Regions from separate parts of the Homo sapiens genome. Here region 2 is linked to region 1. The links come from fine-mapping of genetic effects on gene expression. A gene starts in region 1. The other region holds a variant in brackets. All regions are shown on one strand. Distances are from middle to middle. Region 1 holds the start of PDE6B-AS1 (PDE6B antisense RNA 1). Region 2 overlaps MYL5 (myosin light chain 5).

The links. PIP is the estimated chance that this variant, and not a neighbour inherited with it, causes the effect.
Region 2: its variant is fine-mapped to the expression of PDE6B-AS1 in whole blood (TOPMed, PIP above 0.99).

What each region holds. Positions count from the first base shown.
Region 1 is chr4:650,754-658,753 of GRCh38, reverse strand. PDE6B-AS1 (PDE6B antisense RNA 1) reads left to right here and starts at 3,554. Exons shown (of 4, transcript NR_183811.1): 1 at 3,554-3,672; 2 at 4,541-4,689; 3 at 4,783-4,996; 4 at 5,071-5,849. PDE6B (phosphodiesterase 6B) reads right to left here. Exons shown (of 22, transcript NM_000283.4): 4 at 4,762-4,902; 5 at 4,600-4,674; 6 at 3,866-3,930; 7 at 2,748-2,814; 8 at 2,462-2,509; 9 at 1,731-1,880; 10 at 1,260-1,403. RefSeq lists an enhancer at 7,227-8,000.
Region 2 is chr4:676,476-688,854 of GRCh38, reverse strand. MYL5 (myosin light chain 5) reads right to left here. Exons shown (of 9, transcript NM_002477.2): 3 at 10,826-10,933; 4 at 10,090-10,197; 5 at 9,822-9,897; 6 at 8,837-8,941; 7 at 8,268-8,346; 8 at 7,715-7,763; 9 at 6,827-6,962. The coding sequence starts at 10,828. The coding sequence ends at 6,861. It overlaps SLC49A3 (solute carrier family 49 member 3), which reads left to right. Exons shown (of 10, transcript NM_032219.4): 2 at 2,165-2,323; 3 at 2,553-2,766; 4 at 2,944-3,020; 5 at 3,999-4,136; 6 at 4,256-4,372; 7 at 5,094-5,246; 8 at 5,488-5,645; 9 at 5,965-6,074; 10 at 6,479-7,026. The coding sequence ends at 6,897. It overlaps LOC124900643 (a long non-coding RNA gene), which reads right to left and starts at 2,170. Exons shown (of 2, transcript XR_007057985.1): 1 at 1,617-2,170; 2 at 836-1,383. RefSeq lists enhancers at 1-389, 1,338-2,286, 3,491-3,620, 4,751-5,160, 7,490-8,129 and silencers at 6,908-7,137, 7,218-7,417, 7,638-7,737. The variant G/A (reference allele first, on the strand shown) is at 8,377.

The DNA of each region.
Region 1 (8,000 bases):
CGGGCACTGCCTTACGCAGTCCTCAGGTATAATGATGGGACTCTCTCATGATGACCAGGAGGGCTCTGGCCATGCAAGGCCCCTGGCTGGGGAGATTGAGCACAGGGAAGGGATGCCAGGGCCGTGCAGACAGAGGGACCTCGGGGGCATGCCAGGGCTGTACTCAGCTCTGGCCCCAGGGCCGTGTCCCCACCACACAGAGAGAGCTGTGACCCCTGGGTAACCTGGCCGCCCACTGCACAGAGGGAGCCGTGACCCCTGGGTGACCTGCCCCACACAGCTGTGACCCCTGGGTGACCTGCCCCCACCGCACAGCCATGACCCCTGGGTGACCTGCCCCTGCCACACAGCCGTGACCCCTGGACGACCTGCCCCGCACACCTGTGACCCCTGGGTGACCTGCCCCCACCACACAGCCATGACCCTTGGGTGACCTGCCCCGCACACCTGTGACCCCTGGACGACCTGCCCCCGCCGCACAGCCGTGACCCCTGGTGACCTGTCCCTGCCACAGATCCATGACCCCTGGGTGACCTGCCCCCGCCACACAGCCGTGACCCCTGGCGACTTGCCCCCACCATACAGCCATGACCCCTGGTGACCTGTCCCCACCGCACAGCTGTGACCCCTGGTGACCTGCCCCCGCCGCAGAGCCATGACCTCTGGGTGACCCCTGGATGGACCCCTGGACGACCTGCCCCCACCACACAGCCGTGACCCCTGGATGACCTGCCCCCACCGCACAGCCATGACCCCTGGGTGAGCCCTGGATGACCTGCCTCTGCTGCACAGCCATGACCCCTGTGACCCCTCAATGGACCCCTGGACGACCTGCCTGTGCCACACAGCCATGACCCCTGGGTGACCCCTGGACGACCTGCCCCTGCCGCACAGCCGTGACCCCTGGGTGACCCCTGGACGACCTGCCCCCGCCGCACAGCCATGACCCCTGGGTGAGCCCTGGATGACCTGCCTCTGCTGCACAGCCATGACCCCTGGGTGACCCCTGGATGCCCTGCCCCCGCCGCACAGCTGTGACCCCTGGGTGACCCCTGGACGACCTGCCCCCACCGCACAGCCGTGACCCCTGGGTGACCCCTGGACGACCTGCCCCCACCGCACAGCCGTGACCCCTGGGTGACCCCTGGATGACCTGCCCCCACCACACAGCCGAGACCCCTGGGTGACCCCTGGACGACCTGCCCCTGCCACACAGCCGTGACCCCTGGGTGACCCCTGGACGTCCTGCCCCGCCGCACCAGGATGAGCTGGATCTCGTCCCTGTCGCACTTCACGTGGTAAAGGACCATGTCCTGTGCGATGTCCTTGCGGTTCTCCAGCTTGTTCATCTTGTCGTAGGTGTCGGTGTTCATCACTGACCAGCCCAGGAACTGTGTCAGGGACTGGAGGGGATGGCAGTGTCACTGGCGCTCAGCGCTCCCGGCGCGCCCCCTCCCATGTGCCTGTGTGCCAGGCCCCGTGGCTCGGCGGGCAGGTCCTGGGGCTGCCACCATGGTGTCGCAGTGCTTCTGTGTGGGGTCTCCCGGGTGCTCTGCAGAGGCTCCTGCTCCCGGGGGGGCCCTTTGTCGTCCTCTCCCTGGCCGCATGCATACCGCACACACATGAGCACACGCACACAGCCGAATGCTTGGCGGGGAGGCCCCCACACCGCACAGGCCCCACCCCTCGCAGGGCATCCCCGGCGGAACCACGTCTGCCCAGGTGCTTACCTCCATGAGAACCTCGTCCTGTTCGTCAAAGGGCTTCCCGTCTTTCCTGTTGTAAAATGTGGCGACTCCCACAATCTCCTCCTTCTTGTTGACGATGGGCATGGACAGCACATTCTTGATGAGCCACCCGGAGTCGTCCAGGGCCCCTTCCTGCGGGAGCGGTGTCCAGAGCTGAGCTCCGCCCTGAGGCTGGCCCTGGCCCGGGCGTGTGGCCGGGGAGAGTGACCTCATGTCTTCTCCCCTAGAGCCGTGACGGCTGGGCTCGTGTTCCTGTCTCTGCTCTCTGCATTCCCTCTCTCCCTCTCTGCATTTGGAGTTTGTGTCCATGGTTTTTGTGTCATGATATTTTCCCACCGGAGGAGGTAGAGGCCGTTTTCCCACCAGGAGTGGTTTCATGGGCATGTGTGTGGGGCGGCGGTCACGGCCTCGCAGGGGTGTGTGGGGGCCGCGGTCACGGCCTCGCAGGGGTGTGTGGGGGCCGCGGTCACGGCCTCGCAGGGGTGTGTGGGGGCCGCGGTCACGGCCTTGCGGGCGTGTGTGGGGGCTGTGGTCACAGCCCCAGGTGATCCACCCGCCTCAGCCTCCCAAAGTGCTGGGATTACAGGCGTGAGCCACCATGCCTGGCTGAAGTTGTTTTTTAAGTGGCAAAAACGAATTCACTTCATCATCGCTGAATCAAAATCTCCTCTTTTGTAAGTAAGTATAATTTCTACCAAGGCACAGACAGATACCTGAAATTTGAACATTTCGTCAGCGGAAGCATTCATGATGTTACAAATCTGAAAAAGCATCAGAAAAACGATTTCATCCAAAACAGCGGAAGGTCTGTTATGATCTAAAATGGCCTCTGTGGCCCTGAGGTGAGCTTTTAAGTAGGTAAAGCAGGGCAGCTGGGGGCTTCACTGAGGCACGTGGAGCTGGCCGGGAGGGCGGGACGTGGCAGAGACAAGGAGAAGCACACATCGCCGCACCCAGTGAGGGCAAGGCTGTGGGGACTCCAGACAGCACGGGACTCACAAAGCCGCTTTCTGCCACGTAGCTTGGAAGGCCGCTGGCCAGGGCCCAGTGATCGGCTGAGGGTGTGCTGTGGGCAGAGAGCAGGGGTCAGATAGGCCACGCCGGGCTGGATGTGCGCGTGCAGGAGTCAGAGGGACTGGATGTCTGTGTGCAGGGGTGAGAGGGGCTGGTCTAGGCTGCACGTGTGTGTGCAGGGGTCAGAGGGGCTGGTCTGGGCTGCACGTGTGTGTGCAGGGGTCAGAGGGGCCAGGCTGCGCTGGATGTAGGTGTACTGGGGTCAGATGGACTGGGCGTGTGTGCAGGGGTCTGGGGGTCTCTGGCTCATGTGCCATCCTCAGCATTTACTCTCTTCTCTGAGTGCCAGGGGGTTCAGGAGGCGAGGAGGCCAGGGCGTGGGTTGGAGGACGGCTGTGCTGCCTTCTTCCTCCTCCCCAGGCTGCCGTGCTGGGGCCCCTCCCTCTTGGGAACCCCTCCCTCTCCGGAGGCCGTATGGCTTCAGCCTGCTTTCTAGGACTCAGCGTTGGTGCCTGCCCTGCCACCCTGACCCTGACTTGTGCTCAAGCCTGGCACCTGGATCCTGGTTCCTGCTTGGGGCCTGGGGATGGGGTCCCAATAGGCTTATGGGATCACAGGGCCACTGGGCCACCAGCTGCCCCTCCCTTGGCTGGAGTCCTGCCCTGACCTCCGGACTGGAGTTCCCCTCCTCTTCCAGCCCCACGGGGCCAAGACTCGGCCTCCTGGCTGGAGGCTCCACTGTCTGGGTGGGGCTGGTGGTGCCAGGGTCAAATCCTGGGGCCTTCATGCTCAATTGTTGCTGACGAGGCCGCCTGGACAGCTTGCCTGGTCCCCTGTATGTCCACTCTGGATGTCCACAGTGACTCGGGCTCCTCAGCAGCCCACGTCCTCCTCACCATCTCCCAGAACAGTGAGTCGGCTTCTGTCTCACCCCCAACTCCACTATGCCCCACGGCACACAGAGCACCACAGGTGGGGCCAGGCCAGGCCGGTGCTGCTGACTGCACCGTGGGAAGCCCTGGGAGGACGGCCCTGGGGGCTGAGCCGGGGTCTGAGGGGCGGTCCCTCCCCCGGGGACGCTTCTGGTAAAATCCTGCACTTACGGAATGACCTTGATCTCCTCCTTGCCGTGGAGGACGTAGTCGATCACTTTGTAGAAGACAATTTCCTGAGAAGCAGAAGACACTGGTCGGGGGGCTGCCTGGCCAAGCTCTGAGGGGCTCACACACACACACACAGCTACATGCAGCTACACACAGCCACACGCATGCACACCCCCACACACGTAACCGTGCATGTGTACACACGTGAACAGATGTCTCCGCCGTGCGCAGGTATTCTACGAATGCGGGTGCACTCACACCCATGTCCACACATGCACAGGCTCAGGGTGCACACACATGCAGACCGTCCCCAATACTCACGGGACACGCATCACACGCCGCGGTTTACATCTGTCTTCCCAGTCTGTGTTCCGCACAATCCCACACACAAGCTGGGCCCGTACTCTCACACACACACACACACACGCATCCTACACGTGCACAGGAGGTCCCACGTGGGGAGATGGGGCAGCAGGAGCCCCCACAATCAGAGCCGACGTGGGTCTTCACGACCAGCCTGGCGGCCCTCATTCAGGGACCAGCCCTGGACACCCCATCCCTGGAGTGCAGCAGCAGGGGAGCCTGGTGGAGACCACAGACAGGCACCCGGGGTCCCACCGGCCAGTTCCCACCTCCCTAAACCCCACCCCTATCCCTCCCTCTCCTGCCCTGGAGTTGGAGTCAGGGAAACAGAGGCGTGTGGACAGGCCCTGGGCCCCTCCCCTAAGACTCACCCGGCCATCAGGCGTGCGTGGGCCCGAGTACGGCTGGGACTCTCCCATCAGCACAGACCACACGTCAAAAAATTCCTGGGCAGAGAAGAGGTGAGGGTGGGGCGGTCACTGCGGGACCTGGGTCGGGCCAGGCAGGGGGTCCCTGAGCCACGGAAGCCTCACCTTCTCCTTGGTCATGTCCAGGAGGCCCACGGAGTACCGCTCGCAGTTGAGGTAGGCCCGCACCGTGTAGAAGGCCTTGTGGAACTGCCTCTCGATGTCCGTCAGCTCCTCAAACACCTTGTTGGCCGACCACAGCAGCACCTGGAGGGAGGGGCACACCTGTGGGCCTGTGGCCACTCCCACCCTCACGCCGGTCTGACCACAGCAGCAGGGGTTTAACTCAAGCCTGACACAGGTGCGCTCCCTGATCTGACCACCTGCCCAGCCGTGGAGCCTGGCACAGACCCTGATTGGTGGCTCCGTGGCCAGGTTTCATCTGAGCTTGTGGGGCCCGGGAGCTGGCTGGCGGTGAGGCCTCGAGGCTGCGGTCGTGTCCCTGATCACTCAGGAGTGGACGAGTGGAAAGTGGAATCTGTCGCTTTGAGCTTGACAGGCAAACATCCGACCAGCCCTTCCTCCGCCCGGCTGCTCCAGAACCACCTGCGGCGAGCAGGGCTTTGAGAACATCGGGCCGTGGTTTCCGCACGTCAGGCCGCCTGTGGCCTCCGCCAAGCGTCTGAGAGTGAAGCATTGCTGACGCACTCCACGAGGTCCTGGCCAGACCCCACTCAGGACATCCCGCTGCACAGGCCCCTGGTTGCTGGGTCAGCGCTGCCACCAGGCTCAGACTCACCCCAGGGCCCTCCTTGGGCCACCTTTCTCTGCCTCCTTGGTCAAGGCCCAGACCCAGGCCCCACCAGGCCCTGCCTCCTCACACTCGCGGCGGCCGCTGGGTCTTCTACCGCATGGTGCCAGCTCCCTCTCCTCCGCTGCGGTGTCCTAGCCCAGCTCTCTCCCTGCCAGGCCCTCTGAAGTTCCACCCCCTGGCACTCAGCTCATGGTGGGAACAGGACCAGGCTCTCCTGTTGCCAAGGGCAGTGAGATGTTCGTAGCTTTATTTCCCAGTACATTGATTTTACTGATTTTAGTTTATCTTCAGTTGAATAATTGTGTGTATTGATGGGGTTTATGTTTTATGGGGTTTGGCGTGATGTTCTGATGTAAGTATTTGTTGCAGAAAGATTCAATTAAGCTAATCAACATATCCATCACCTCACCAACTTGTTTTTTTTGTGGTGAGAACATTACAAGTCTATTTTCTAGCAATTTGGTATACAATACAGTCATCCCTCGGCATCCTCAGGGAAATTGGTTCCAGGACGCCGCTCTGATAACAAAATCCGAGGATGTTCAAGTCCCGGATGTGAAATGGCCTAGAGTTTGTACAGAGGTTGCACACGCACCCCCAGGACTTCAAATCATCTCCGATGACTTAGCACCCAGTGCAAGGCAAGGCCATGAAAACGGCTGTTCTACTGTATTGTTTTACATTCTTATTCTTATTTTTAATTTAAAACTTTTCCCACATCATAAATCCTCGGAAGCAGAACTGCACTTACCGAGCACCCTGTGTACTGTGGTTAACGGCAGTGGTGGCCGCCACACAGCGCGGCTGACCTTGAAGCCCACAGCTCCAGCTAACGAACGCTTTGCACCCTTTCACCAACGTCTCTGCTTTCTCTATCTCTCTTCCTGCCCCGGCCTCCTGCAACCCCCTTTCCACTCTCTGTTTCCATGAATTCAGGGTTTTCGGATCCCACATGTGAGTGAGATCCTAGCTTTTGGCCAGTGGCATCCTCCAGGTCCATGCACGTCAGTGCCCTTCCCTGGCAGCATCCTCAGTGCCGGCTCTGCTGTTCCCAGAGTCCCTCCCTCCCTCCCTGCTGAGGCCCGGCCCCCCTGCAGCCCCTGAGCACCAGCCTCTCTCGTCCAACACCTTTTTCTCCCTGAAGCCTTTCCTGAGCCATGTTTCTCCAGTGACCCTGACCCCTGCCTCGCAATCTCCGCCCGGGTCTGCAGCCTACCCTGACTCCTGCCTCACCGATGGGTGTGGACCCTCCTCACTGGCCTCCACACTCTCCTGCCCTGACCCCAGTCACCGTCGTGGAGCCGCCCTGGCCGCAGTCACAGTCATGGAGCTGCTGCTGGTGCCACCCTCAGCAGAAGCTCCCAGCCTTCCCAGCCCCTATCTGAGTATGTCCCACCCCCCGTGTCCCTGCACTGGTCAGGAGCTTTGGCCCCATGCCCGTGTGAAGAAGTCAGCTCAGTCACTGGAGTTAGTGGGTCCAGAACAGGACTTGGGAAAACAGCAGGTGCAGATGGCGACCGCCCTAGCACTCTCCACAGCCCCGGCACCTGCTGAATGGAGACGGCTCCCCATAGCCCCGGCGCCTGCTGAATGGAGACGGCTCTTCATAGCTCCAGAGCCTGCTGAATGGAGACGGCTCCCCATAGCCCTGGCGCCTGCTGAATGGAGACGGCTCTCCACAGCCCCGGCGCCTGCGGCTCAGGAGACTCGCTGTAGATGTGTGGAATCGCCAGGTGCATTCTCCTCGCGTGACTGGTTCACCCAGAGCCGCAGGTGGAGGCCCGGCCCCACCCTCTGCGCCCTCTGCGTCCCTCCCACACTCAGTCTGTCTCCTGCCGAACTCAGCGCCTTCGCACGGGCTCTGGCCTCTGCCTCCAGGCCCTCATCCCAGGCCCTCCTCCTCCCAAGGCCTGGCCTCAAGTCCTTTCCAGGAGGCCCCCCCTGAGGACCCACCAACCCCTGGGGCCCCCACTCCCCATTCAGTCTGACCCCACGGGTCAGCCCCTGCCCCGCCTGTGACGGCCCCACTGCTGTTGACATCGCCGCCTCAGCCCCTGCCCCGCCTGTGACGGCCCCACTGCCGTTGACATCGCCGCCTCAGCCCCTGCCCCGCCTGTGACGGCCCCACTGCTGTTGACATCGGCGCCTCAGCCCTGTCCTGCCTGTGACGGCCCCACTGCTGTTGACATCGCCACCTCAGCCCCTGCCCCGCCTGTGACAGCCCCACTGCCGTTGACATCGCCGCCTCAGCCCGTCCTGCCTGTGACAGCCCCACTGCCGTTGACATCGGCACCTCAGTGAGGGGAGGCACTGAGTTCAAGGTGGTCCCAGCCCAGCAGCCCCACCCTGAGGCTTCTGCCGTCCTCCTTGTTTTCATTTTTAATTTTCCGGTTAAAAGCCTGCTGGTGCACACAGCAACTGACTGAAGTGCAGGCGTCTTCAGCGTGTGGCGGGTGGATTTTCGCTGCCGGCTCGGGCTCAGGGCATTCCTCTGTGCCCCCGTCAACACCCCCTGCCCTCCGGAATGGCTCTTCCAACCTCCGACCCTGGC
Region 2 (12,379 bases), 28 kb before region 1:
TTGCGGGCACTGGGGGCACTGTCTGTCCTGGAGGTGGCTGGGCCCAGGGCACAGAGCAGGGCTGGGTGCCCCGGGGGATCTGCCAGTCACGGAGTCCCAGCCCTTCCCAGCCTTCAGTGGCTCCAGCCTGGGTCCCTCTTCCCCAGCCAGTCACATACAGGTGGCCCTGCGTTGGCCCTCTCTCCTTCCACGCCTCCCAGCCCCAGGACAGCAGGCACACAGCAGAGGCGCGCTTGGAGCCGCCCTCCCCTCCACCTGACTCTGAGTGAGGGGCGGCTCCTGGGCTGGGCTGGGTTCCGTCCTGCCCCCACCCCCTTCAGGTGTTGCACGCTGCAGCCTTTCCCGCCCTGTGTGCCCTCATCAGCCATCCCCCGGAGCCTCAGGAACTGGTCAGGCAGTATCTGGCCAACGTGCAATGAACAGCTAGAGTTGGCAGCAGGACCCACAGCTCAGGGAGGCGCCAGGTCACGGGGATGGTCAGGAAGCTCGGGGGCAGGGGCAGGAGTCACTCTCAGGCCTGGGTCAGGGCTCTTCCAGGTGGACCCCGGGGCCTCTCCCCTCCTCCTTTGCTGGCTGGGTATGGAGGGCCAGCCTCTGGCCGAGACAGGCCCGGGATCTGCTGGATGGGCCCAGGGGCTGCCTGCTGCCCACAATGCTGGCACGAGCCGTAACTCACTGCTGTGGCTTGGCGTCCTGGCCCACCATGTCCAGGCACTGGGGAAGCCATAACTGGCTTTGGGTGGAGTGTCTGAGGGTGCAGGGCTGGTTTCATGGTCCAAGAGTCAGTGGGTGTCGTAGGTGTGGGGCGTTCCTTGGACAGTCAAGGGCCTCCTGCTGCAGTTCTTCACTGTTTTATTAATATCCACGAGTCATCATGGAGCACACAGAAATCTCACCCTGACACCAAGAGTCGTCATGGTCTCTGCCTGGGTCACCACAGTGAGCCGTAAGCACCATGTTCACTCCAGCCAAGTGCCCTTGAGGCTGGAGGTTACTCATCTGCAGCCAGTGACCAGGGATCCCGGGTTCCAACCAGCAGCATGAGGGCCAGGCGGAGCAGAGCTTGGGTCAACACCCACCCCGGAAGGCAGCCCAGTGCTCTGGATGAGACTCAAAGGACCCAAGGGGGCGAGCGCAGGCAGGGTCGAGGCTGGGAGATGAGGAAGGGAGTCAGACAGATCGTCCTCCCACGTTGCCCCGCACGCTTCAGACGCATCTCTTCTCAGTGAGTCAGCTGTGGGCCCCACTCAGGCCCCCGAGGAACCAGGACAGGGCTGAGGCTGGAGCGGCGGGCTCGGCTCCGCAGGGTGGGCTTTCTCTCCCGGGCTCGGCCAGGCAGGCACCAGCTGGGCCTGGGGAGCTCGTTCTGTGCCTGGCCCCGTCCTGCAGAAAAAGGAAGACAGGGCGGCTGTTGCCCAAGCTCCCTGTCCTGTCCCGTGGGCTGAGTCAGACCTTGTCCGGGCGGAGCCTGGGTCTGGCTGCTGTGTCCGAGGGTGTGGCCTGGAGCTCAGTCGACTCATGGAAGTTGACCTTGAGTGACACGGCCTCCTGCCTCCCGGAGTGAGCCCCGGTGACCCGCTCCACTTTGGCCTCCCTCAGGGATGAGCCAGTCTCACCTCTCCTAGGAGGCCTTCCCCTCGGCCGCAGCGTGCACTTGTGCTGTGTGCTGGACGTCCGTGGGGTGAAGAGCTCTAGTACTTGATAATGCCTGTGGCTGGGGAATGGTGCCCGCTCTGGCAACATTCTGCCCAAACACCTGGGCCCTGCAGGAGGGAAGGTCAGGCTGGCCTTGGGTGGGGCTGGCCTGCAGTCCCAGAGGTTCTAGCTGAGACCCCGTCACGCCCACCTTTCCCTGCCTTGGAGCGCCAGGTCTGGTCTGGGCAGGGCTCGTGGTCCTGTGGGCTCTGGCCAGGTCCTTGGCCTCAGTGTCTGCCCCCCAGGCTGGTCCCCGGTCAGGGCATGCTCTCTGACCCTGCGCTGGGTGCCCGCCCTCGGGGGAGGCAGGGTGGCGCTCTCCTTGGGCAGGAAGGCCCCGTGTCCAGCTCGCTGTGTCCCCTCGGCCTCACGGGGCTGCTGGCACTCTGACCCCCTCGGGCTGGCTGGGGCCACAGCAGGTAGGTCCGGGGTCTGTGGCCCTGCGCTGACTCCCGCCTGACCCCTGCAGCTGTGGCTCAGCTTTGCACCTGTGGCTGACGTCATTGCTGAGGACTTGGTCCTGTCCATGGAGCAGATCAACTGGCTGTCACTGGTCTACCTCGTGGTATCCACCCCATTTGGCGTGGCGGCCATCTGGATCCTGGACTCCGTCGGGCTCCGTGCGGCGGTGAGTCAGACCCCACACCATGGCCCGCTCCGGGACAGTGCAGGGGCCCCCGCATTTGGGTAGGAGAGTCAAGGCCTCCCCAGACCGGGGCCCACCAGTCCCAACAGCTGGGGACCCCGGCAGAGCCGTCGAGGTGGCGGCAGTGGGAGGTCCAGGTGCTCGGGGGACGGGGCAGGCACTTGGGCTGGTGGCAGCGTTCCTGACCCGGTCCCCGACCCCCTCCTCGCAGACCATCCTGGGTGCGTGGCTGAACTTTGCCGGGAGTGTGCTACGCATGGTGCCCTGCATGGTTGTTGGGACCCAAAACCCATTTGCCTTCCTCATGGGTGGCCAGAGCCTCTGTGCCCTTGCCCAGAGCCTGGTCATCTTCTCTCCAGCCAAGCTGGCTGCCTTGTGGTTCCCAGAGCACCAGCGAGCCACGGCCAACATGCTCGCCACCATGTGTGAGTTCCGGGGAGGGAGGCCGCCTGCCTGGGCTCACCTCAGGGTCCACACAGACGCTCGGCTCCCCAGGCTCTCTGGCCAGGGTGGAGGAGCTGGGGCCCGGAAGGTTCTGCCTGTGGGCTGGCGATGAAGCCAGGCCACAGCCGAGCTGACACTTTGTGCATCCGCCCACCCAGCGAACCCTCTGGGCGTCCTTGTGGCCAATGTGCTGTCCCCTGTGCTGGTCAAGAAGGGTGAGGACATTCCGTTAATGGTGAGGGGTCATGAGACGCCCGTGCCTGGTCTGTGTGGTGTGTGCGCATGCACGTCTGTGTGTTCCTGATCCCAAGTGTGTCCGTGTTCCTGTGCCCGTGTGTGATTCCCGTCCCCCGCCCCGCCACCCGAGAAGGAGTCTCAGCCTGTCGCTCAGGCTGAATTGCAGTGGCGCGATCTCGGCTCACTGCAACCTCCGCCTACTGGGTTTAAGCAATTCCCCTGCCTCATCTTCCCGAGTAGCTGGGACTACAGGCGTGCGCCACCATGCTTGGCTAATTTTTTTTTTTTTGTATTTTTGGTAGAGTTGGGGTTTCACCATGTTGGCCAGGCTGGTCTCGAACTCCTGACCTCATGATCCGTCTGCCTCGGCTTCCCAAAGTGCTAGGATGACAGGCGTGAGCCACCGCGCCCGGCCAGTGTGTGATGTTTCTATGCCTGCCTGTGTGTATTGAGTGTGTGTGGTGTGTGCGGTGCGTGTCTCTGTTCCTGTGCCCATGTGTATTGTGTGATGTGTGCATATGTGTCTGTGTGTCTGTGCACATGTGTGGTGTGTACCTGTGTGTGCTCGTGCATGTGTATCAGGTGCGGGTGGTGTGTTTGTGCTTGGGGGTATGTACTGAGCGTGAGTCTGTATGCACGTGTGCCTCTGCACCCACCTGTGTCTGTGTGTTGAGCCCTATCATGGGCTGTGCAGCTGGCAGTGAGATGTAAGTCTGGAGCCTGGGGGTGCTGGGCTAACATCAGCCAGGAGGGTGTCACTGGTGAGGGATGCGTTGACAGCCAGGGGTCCCCATGAGCCCCTGGAGCAGGCCCCTCCCAGCCTGGGCCTCGCAAAGGGCAGCTGCAGACCAGAGGTTGGGAGGCAGCCGGTGGTGGGGCAGGAGGAGCTGGGAGGTGGCGCCTGGGACAGGCAGGGCTGCGGCGTGTGTGGGTGCCAGTCTGCGTGGTCTCCTTGTGCACACACACCCCTCCCCAGCTCGGTGTCTATACCATCCCTGCTGGCGTCGTCTGCCTGCTGTCCACCATCTGCCTGTGGGAGAGTGTGCCCCCCACCCCGCCCTCTGCCGGGGCTGCCAGCTCCACCTCAGAGAAGTTCCTGGATGGGCTCAAGCTGGTCAGTGCCGTGGGATCCCCGGGGTAGGGTGGATTTGGGGGTGGGGGCAAGAGGCTGAGGAGGCGATGGGTTTGGGAAGGGCCCCCGGGCTCCGGGGCTGAGACGCTCTTTCCCAGCAGCTCATGTGGAACAAGGCCTATGTCATCCTGGCTGTGTGCTTGGGGGGAATGATCGGGATCTCTGCCAGCTTCTCAGCCCTCCTGGAGCAGATCCTCTGTGCAAGCGGCCACTCCAGTGTGAGCCTGGCCCCACCCCTGGGGACCCTGCCTCTGTCATCCGCCCCATATGGCCATGGAGTCACCGCCGCCTCCAGGGTGCCCAGTGTCCGACCCTGGCGGGGGCCACATTGACACCCTTCTGTGCTGTGGGCCCTCCCGAGATGCCCTGTGTGACATTATGTCCACAGGCAGTGGAGGTGGTGGGCACAGCTGCAGTGGGGTGGGGCAGCTGTGGGACGGAGCGGAGGGACTGACGGTGCCCTGTGGATGGGAAGGTGGGGCCCCCAGGGCTCCCAGTGCCCCTTCCCAGCAAGGCCCCGCCCCTGTGGGTCTGCAGGACAGCGCCACCTTCTGGTATCCAGACGTGCAGCGGGGAGGGCCTTGCTCTGCTCGCATATCTCCGAGCTGGCCCTCTGCCCTCTGCCTTCTGGGATCAGTGCTCAGTGTAGGATTGGGGGCATGTTTCCACCTTTGCCAGGGCCACAGGCACCACGGCCCTGTGGGGCCTCTGTGGAGACAGGCTCTTCCCTTTAGCGATTGCTTTGCTCTGGGGTGGGGTGGGAAACACAAGGCAGGAAACCCTACCCCGCAGGCAGCCAGCGGTGCGTCTGGAAGCTGTGTTGCTATGCCTGGGCCTTGGGCACAGCACACGGCCCTACACTGAGCCCCCTGCCCTGACGGCATGCACCTAGGATAATGGTGGCCTCTTGGGGCCCTGGCCTCTTCTCGCCTCCTCCAGGGGTTTTCCGGCCTCTGTGGCGCTCTCTTCATCACGTTTGGGATCCTGGGGGCACTGGCTCTCGGCCCCTATGTGGACCGGACCAAGCACTTCACTGAGGCCACCAAGATTGGCCTGTGCCTGTTCTCTCTGGCCTGCGTGCCCTTTGCCCTGGTGAGGGTCTCCTCAAGCCAAGACTGCCCTGTGGGGGTGGGTGGGTGGTGAGGCCCGGAGAGGGCGGTTGGCGGCTTGGCTGGAACAGAGGTCTGGACTGTCTCATGCCCAGCCTCTGCCAGCCAGGGTGGCCCCGGGGTGGGATGGGTTCTCCTGCCCCGTGTCCCATGTCCCGTGAAGCCAGGTCCAGTTCTGACTGCCACCCCCTCCACCTGTCTGCCTGCCGTTCCGCTGCTCCCAGGTGTCCCAGCTGCAGGGACAGACCCTTGCCCTGGCTGCCACCTGCTCGCTGCTCGGGCTGTTTGGCTTCTCGGTGGGCCCCGTGGCCATGGAGTTGGCGGTCGAGTGTTCCTTCCCCGTGGGGGAGGGGGCTGCCACAGGCATGATCTTTGTGCTGGGGTGAGTGTCCATCTGCCCCTGCTGCAACCCCAGAGATACTCCCCTTGCTCCACCCCTACACCCCTGGGGTTGCACCATGTGGTCCAGGCCCCTTTTCGGGGAGGTGGGGAACCTGCCTGCTCTGGCAAGGGCCGAGCAGGTTCTGAGCACCTGCTGTGTGCAGGCCGGGCCGGCTGATAGGGCCCATGACCGAGGCTGCGTGCTGCCTTCAGGAGGGTGGTGGCACAAGGGACAGCACCGATGTCAACATTTCCCAAGGTGGCACCTGGCTCCGAGGGGGTGGGCAGTGCAGCGGGGGCTGAGGGCCACGTGTGTCCAGGCAGGCCGAGGGAATACTCATCATGCTGGCAATGACGGCACTGACTGTGCGACGCTCGGAGCCGTCCTTGTCCACCTGCCAGCAGGGGGAGGATCCACTTGACTGGACAGGTGAGCCTCACATGGGGAGTCCCCAGGGAACAGGACAGGTGAGCCCCATGTGAAGATTCCCTGGGAGCGGGACAGGTGAACCCTACGTGGGGAGCCCTAAACAGCAGGACAGGTGAGCACCACGCAGGGAGTCCCCGGGCAATAGGACAGGTGAGCCAGGACAGGTGTGGCCGAGATCAGAGATGGGGCTGGCACACCCATATCCCAGACCCCATGCTAGTGACCTCTCTCAGGACCTGGGTCTGCAAACACCCCCTCAGGGCTGTCAAGAGCTGCGAGTGGGCTCTCCGTCTGGGGTCACTCTGTGGTCAAGGGTAGTGGGGTCACCATAGGCCAGCATTGGGCTCTGCCCATCTGTGGCCCCTGGGCTTGGCTGTGGGGACAGCTGTGCTATGTGTCCCCAGTGTCTCTGCTGCTGATGGCCGGCCTGTGCACCTTCTTCAGCTGCATCCTGGCGGTCTTCTTCCACACCCCATACCGGCGCCTGCAGGCCGAGTCTGGGGAGCCCCCCTCCACCCGTAACGCCGTGGGCGGCGCAGACTCAGGGCCGGGTGTGGACCGAGGGGGAGCAGGAAGGGCTGGGGTCCTGGGGCCCAGCACGGCGACTCCGGAGTGCACGGCGAGGGGGGCCTCGCTAGAGGACCCCAGAGGGCCCGGGAGCCCCCACCCAGCCTGCCACCGAGCGACTCCCCGTGCGCAAGGCCCAGCAGCCACCGACGCGCCCTCCCGCCCCGGCAGACTCGCAGGCAGGGTCCAAGCGTCCAGGTTTATTGACCCGGCTGGGTCTCACTCCTCCTTCTCCTCCCCGTGGGTGATCACGTAGCTGAGCGCCTTGTAGTCCAGGTTGCCCGCCACATCGATGGAGGCGAACTGGAACATCTGGTCCACCTGCGGGCGGGGGCGAAAGGGCTCCTTGCGGGCTCCGGGAGCGAATTACAAGCGCGCACCTGCAGCGGCCCCGGGTGTGGTTTCTGCGCCGCGGGAGGGGGAGCGGGGAGGGGCCCGGGTGCGGGGTGAGGGCGGCGCTGGAGGGGGCGGGGCGGCGCTGGAGGGGGCGGGGCGGCGCTGGAGGGGGCGGGGCGGCGCTGGAGGGGGCGGGGCGGCGCTGGAGGGGGCGGGGCGGCGCTGGAGGGGGCGGGGCGGCGCTGGAGGGGGCGGGGCGGCGCTGGAGGGGGCGGGGCGGCGGCGGCTGCAGCCACAGTCTGGGCGCACGTGTCGGGCTCGGCCCTTCAGCAGCGTCGGGGAGGACCGTGTGGGGTCTGGGGGAGGTGCGGGGGTCCTGAGGGGTGGCCCGGCATTAGTCTCGCCCGCTGGGGCTGGGAGCGGCGCGTCGGGGGTGGGGGGCGGCTCCGGACCGCACAGCTGTGAGCCCCGCCCCTCCGGCTGGGACAGACGCTCAGGCCGCGGAGGGGTCTCCAGCCGCTGATCTAACGGAGGGGAGGGGTCTCCAACCGCTGACCTGATCCCTCTGAGCCAGTTCCGTCCCTCAGACGGGCACTTCGGGAGCCCCCCGGGGGCCTGTTCTGTCCTGGGTCCTAACCGCGGCGCTGCTCCTCGGGCTCCGCGTCCCCCTCCACCCAGCTGACCCCGGGAGCCCCGCCCTCCCCTCGTGGGCTTGGCAGGGAAGCCGCGGGCCAGACCTCTTCCGCCGTCATCTTGTCAGCCTGGGACATCAGCAGACGCTTGATGCTGAGGACGAGGAAAGGGGTCAGCGCGGGCTGATGCGGGGGTGCAGGAGCCTTCTCGGTGGGGCTCAGGTGCTCCAGGGGCCCCAGGTTGTACTCGCTCACTGCACTCCCGCCCTTCCCGCTGGAGTGTGGCCCTGGGGCAGGTCCCTTCCCAACACACACTCAGGGGCCATCACTTCTGGGGGAGCCGCTGATGGGGACAGAGCCGGAAGGAGGTTACAGGCCAGCGCCTGGTACTTTCCCCGGCGCCTAGCAGGAGCTGAAGATGGAGGAGTGGGCTGAGGGGAAGCCGCCCCACCCCCACCGGGCACAGGCGCTGGTCCCTGTGTGAGCAGGGCTGGCCTCCCACTCAGCTGGGATCCTGGGTTCGCTCCTCATGGCCCTGAAGCTGGTCAGAGGTGGGGAGGTGGGCGTGGCATCTGGTGGCTGACTGTCCCTTTTGGGACAGGATGAGATCACTGGGGTTCCCCGGAAGCCGGGCCGCCCTGGCCGCCCGGGCACTCACTACTCCTTGTTGATTTTCCCTTTCCCGTCCGGGTCCAGCATCTTGAAGGCGTTAAGAATGGTCTCCTCGGCGTCGGTACCTGCCACAAAGGCACCTTCAGCCCAGGGCC[G/A]TCAGGGTGGCAGTCCCGTGGCTGCCAAGGGCAGATGGCAGGAGGGGAGACCCCTGCCCCAAGCAGGGGGAGACTCCAAGCCTCTGCCCACAAGGTGGCCTCTGCCTGAAGGCCTTCTCCTTTCCTGAGCCCCAAGGAGGCCTTGTCGGGCACTCCTGCCCTGGGGTGTAGTGAGTTTTGGGGTGCCCAGGGTCAGCCCAGGCCTGGAGCTGGGGGTGAGTGCTGCATGAGTGAGGGACAGAGGTGTCGACGGCGGGTCACACAGCACGTGGGGCAGGAGGGCGGGCCTGAGCACATGGCTCTGGGGTGGCTGACGGGGCCCCACAGTTGTTGGCTCCCAGAGTGCCAGGCCCTAGGGCTTCTCCAGAGATTGGAAAAGAGAGATTTTTACGTGAAATGTCCGGATCTCTAACTGTTAGGAATTAGCTAGGAGGGCCAGGCCTGCCCCACCGGTGCTCACCGCTCAGCTTCTCCCCAAACAGGTTCAGAAACATGGTGAAGTTGATGGGCCCCGAGGCCTCTTTGAGCATGGCGTCCAGCTCGTCGTCCTTGACGTTGGTCTTGCCTGTTACAGACATGGGGGCATCACAGGGCAGGGCTTGTTGCCTGCCCTGTGCCACCAGCAGGTGACCCCAGCACAGGGCCAGGCAGGCAGATGGGAAGGGTGGGGAGGGAGCGGGAAGGAGACGCTTGGCCCAGGCACGTGGGGCAGTGGGTGCATCTGGCTGGCTGTGTCCACCTCACCCCAAACCGTGAGCCCCAGGACTAAGTGCTGAGGGAGAGGGAGGTGACACAGAGCCTGGGAAGGTGCTGGGATCTGCTGTTCTTAATTCTGGGCATAAGCAGGGCCGAGAGGAAGGTGGGTCACTTGCGACCCTCCCACCCCAAGGAGAAATCACTCCCCAGCTCCCAGGGCAGGACCGAAGCCCCCTGCCCTCCTGCCTCAGGTCAGAGGCAGCTGCTGGGAACAGAATGTGCCGCAGGGAGGACTGAAGCTGGGGAGGGCAGTGTGCCCCACCACACTCGGGCTGTGCTGCAGAGGCTGGGCAGCGTCTCCACGCCCTCTGTCAGCTCTGTGGTCTGGCCGGGCAGGGTCTCCATGCCCTCTGTCAGCTCTGTGGTCCTGCCTGGGGGCAAGCCGCCTGCCTGCCTGTGGCGTCCTACCAGAGAGTCAGCCCCTCCCTGGAGCCTGCTGCCTCAAAGCCCACTCTGAGTTTCCAGGCTTGGGCTGTCCCACCCACCCTGTCTCACCCTGGGATGCTCTCTGCCAGCTCTGATGGAACCAAGGGCGGCCAGGGCCATCACCTTGCAGCTTCAGGGCCGTTGGTGGGCCTCTGAGGCGCGGGCCCTGGCTCCATTCGAGGAGGGGCCGCGGCGTCTGGAGCTGGAGGACCTCTGTGTTCGCCTCCTCCAAGGGCTCTGAGGCGTTCTGCCTGGGTACCTACCCAGGGAGGCATAGGTGTCCTTCAGGTCCTCCTTGTCAATGAAGCCATCTCGGTTCTGATCCATGAGTGTGAATGCCTGGGGACCAAGGTCAGGGCTGCTGTGCTGCCAACCCGGCTGGGCTCTGCCCCGCCCCCTGCTCCCGGTTCCTCAGCACCCCTGACTGAGGATAGGCTTCCACTCCTGCTGGCCCTGGAGCCAGCCCACATGGGGTCTTCCCAGCACAGGCTCCTGGGGGTGGGGGCTCCCAGTGAAGCAGGAAAGTCTCACCTCCTTGAACTCCTGGATCTGAGTCTGCTCAAAGTTGGAGAAGACATTGGATGAGGCTCTCTGGGCCCGGAGGGCACCCCCTTCCTTCTTCTTGGTCTTCCTGCTGGCCTGCGGTGGGAGCACCATGGCTGAGGGTCCTGGGCTGGCTGACGAAACCCTCCAGGGCACCCAGAGTTTTGAGAGACTTAACTCAGATGAAGGGTGGACCTCAGCCCTTCGGGCTGGAGGGGGCCAGACAGCTGAGGAGCATGCCAGCCTCAGGCCTGGGTAGCTGGGGTTGGGGGCAGGACGGCTGCAGGTGTCTGGCTTCAGCACAGGGACTGGGGGAGGGACAGTGGCTTCCAGAAGGCCCACAGAGCACAGTGGTCAGGGATCGCCGTCCAGCAGGAGCCAGCTTGGCCTCTGAAGGCTTGAGGGGCAAGTGGACTCTGGGTGGGCTTGTTCTGGGTACCGGGATTTTGTGAAAGCCAGGAACCCCCTCATCCTGCTCCGGACTCTCACCAGGAGAGCAACGTGAGGCACGTACTTCCCACAACACAGCACAGCCCACACCCGCAAGGTCACACACACGCACATACACACGCTCATGCACACACATATGCAGGCAGAGCACACGCCCACACCTGCATTCACACGCAAGCACGGACACGCCCACGCTCGTCTGTGCGCATGTACACATGCACAGCACAGCTCACACCCACACGCCTGCCCCAGGCATGCACGGCGGCCTGCTCACCATGCCTGCTTCTGCCTGCTTTGATGCGTCTGCCCAGGGCCCCAGGTCTTGCCCATCTTAAGCTCCTGCTTGGTCCCCCAGGACAGTTCAGACTCCGGCTGCCACTCCCTACAAGGACAGGCTTGGGGCTACCCCAGGGGACTGGACAGCTGCAGAGTGAGCTTTGGCAGCCTGGCAGTGACTCACACCCTTGCCCTGCCTCACCCCGCAAGGCCCCCAGCCTCCCCAGATACCTCTGGCCAGGACTACCTCCCATCCACCTGTCCCCGAACCCCGGGGAGGCTTTGTTCTCCCAAGGATTCTGTGTGTCAGCAGGGCCACCTGTACACGCTCTTGGCTGGGGGCCTGGGCACCCTGGAACTGCAGGAGCCAGAGGAAGGGGCACTTTTTCTAGATTTGCACAACGCTGCTGTGGGTGACTGCAGCTGGTCACCGGGCTTCTGCCAAGCACACTCTGTCTGTCAGGGGTGTCCACGCCCCTCCCTGCCTTGGTGACAGAAGTCAGTCCATAGCCTTGGCCCTGGGACCACCCCGTCTGACCTCATGGCTGGGAGCTCCTTGCCTGGCCCATGGGTGATGACATTTCTGGGTTGGAGGAGCCATGGAGATGGCCACGTTGCTCAGATGGGCTGGGAGGGGGACTCTAGGGCCCTGAGCCTGGTCTTCCCCACTATACCATGGCCTCAGGCACAGAGTCTGGGGTAGGGACCTGGCCCAGGGTCTGTTGGTGGTGTCAGACATCAGAGGCCACCACAGAGTCAGCATCCAGATGCCCTGGTTCAAGGGGTGGGAGGAGGGTCTGCAGGCCAAGCAGGATCAAGGAGGAGGCCTACAGGCTGAGTGGAGAACAAGCTTTTGGAGCCCCCCAGGCCTGCGTCTGCGTGGGACGCAGTAGGTAACAGGACCCAGGGCACCTGCCCCTCGGTGCTGCAGGGGCAGTGGTGGGAGTGACTATATGCAGCCACAACAGCAGGTGGGATCCCTGGGGGCGCCACCGTGTCTGCAAGGCTAAAAAGACAGGTGCCACTTGCATGTCTCTTGAGCAGAGGTCCTACCCCCTGAGGGACACATGGTCACAGTTGGCGTCCCCTGAGATGCTGCCTGGTGCCATCCCCAGGTCCAGCGGCCTCTATGAAGCACTGACTCCTGAGGTTGAGGACCCTGGAGGCATGACCTGCCCAGGAGGGACCTGGGGCCGACTGCAAGGTGTCAGGTGACCAGATGTGGAACCCTGGGGCTGGGAGCAAGGGCCAGGGCATCCCCTGCTGCCAGTCCAGTGGGGTCTGGGTGTGATCCTGAAGGGGCACTGCTGGGCTGCAGGAGTGGGGAGAACCACACCGAGGGGGGAAGCATGGTTGGGAGGCCCCCCGAGGCCACCGGGAATGTGAGAAGGGCTGCAGAGCCCCCTGCAGAGGGTTCCCAGGCCACTGGAGTCTGAGCACAGTGCTAAAGATAGCAGCAAGCCTGAGCCGGGGGAGTATCGGCTTCTGCACCCACAGCTGACCTGACAGCTGCAGAGGCCCCTGCGGGCGGTGTGCTGAGCCAGGTGGGACC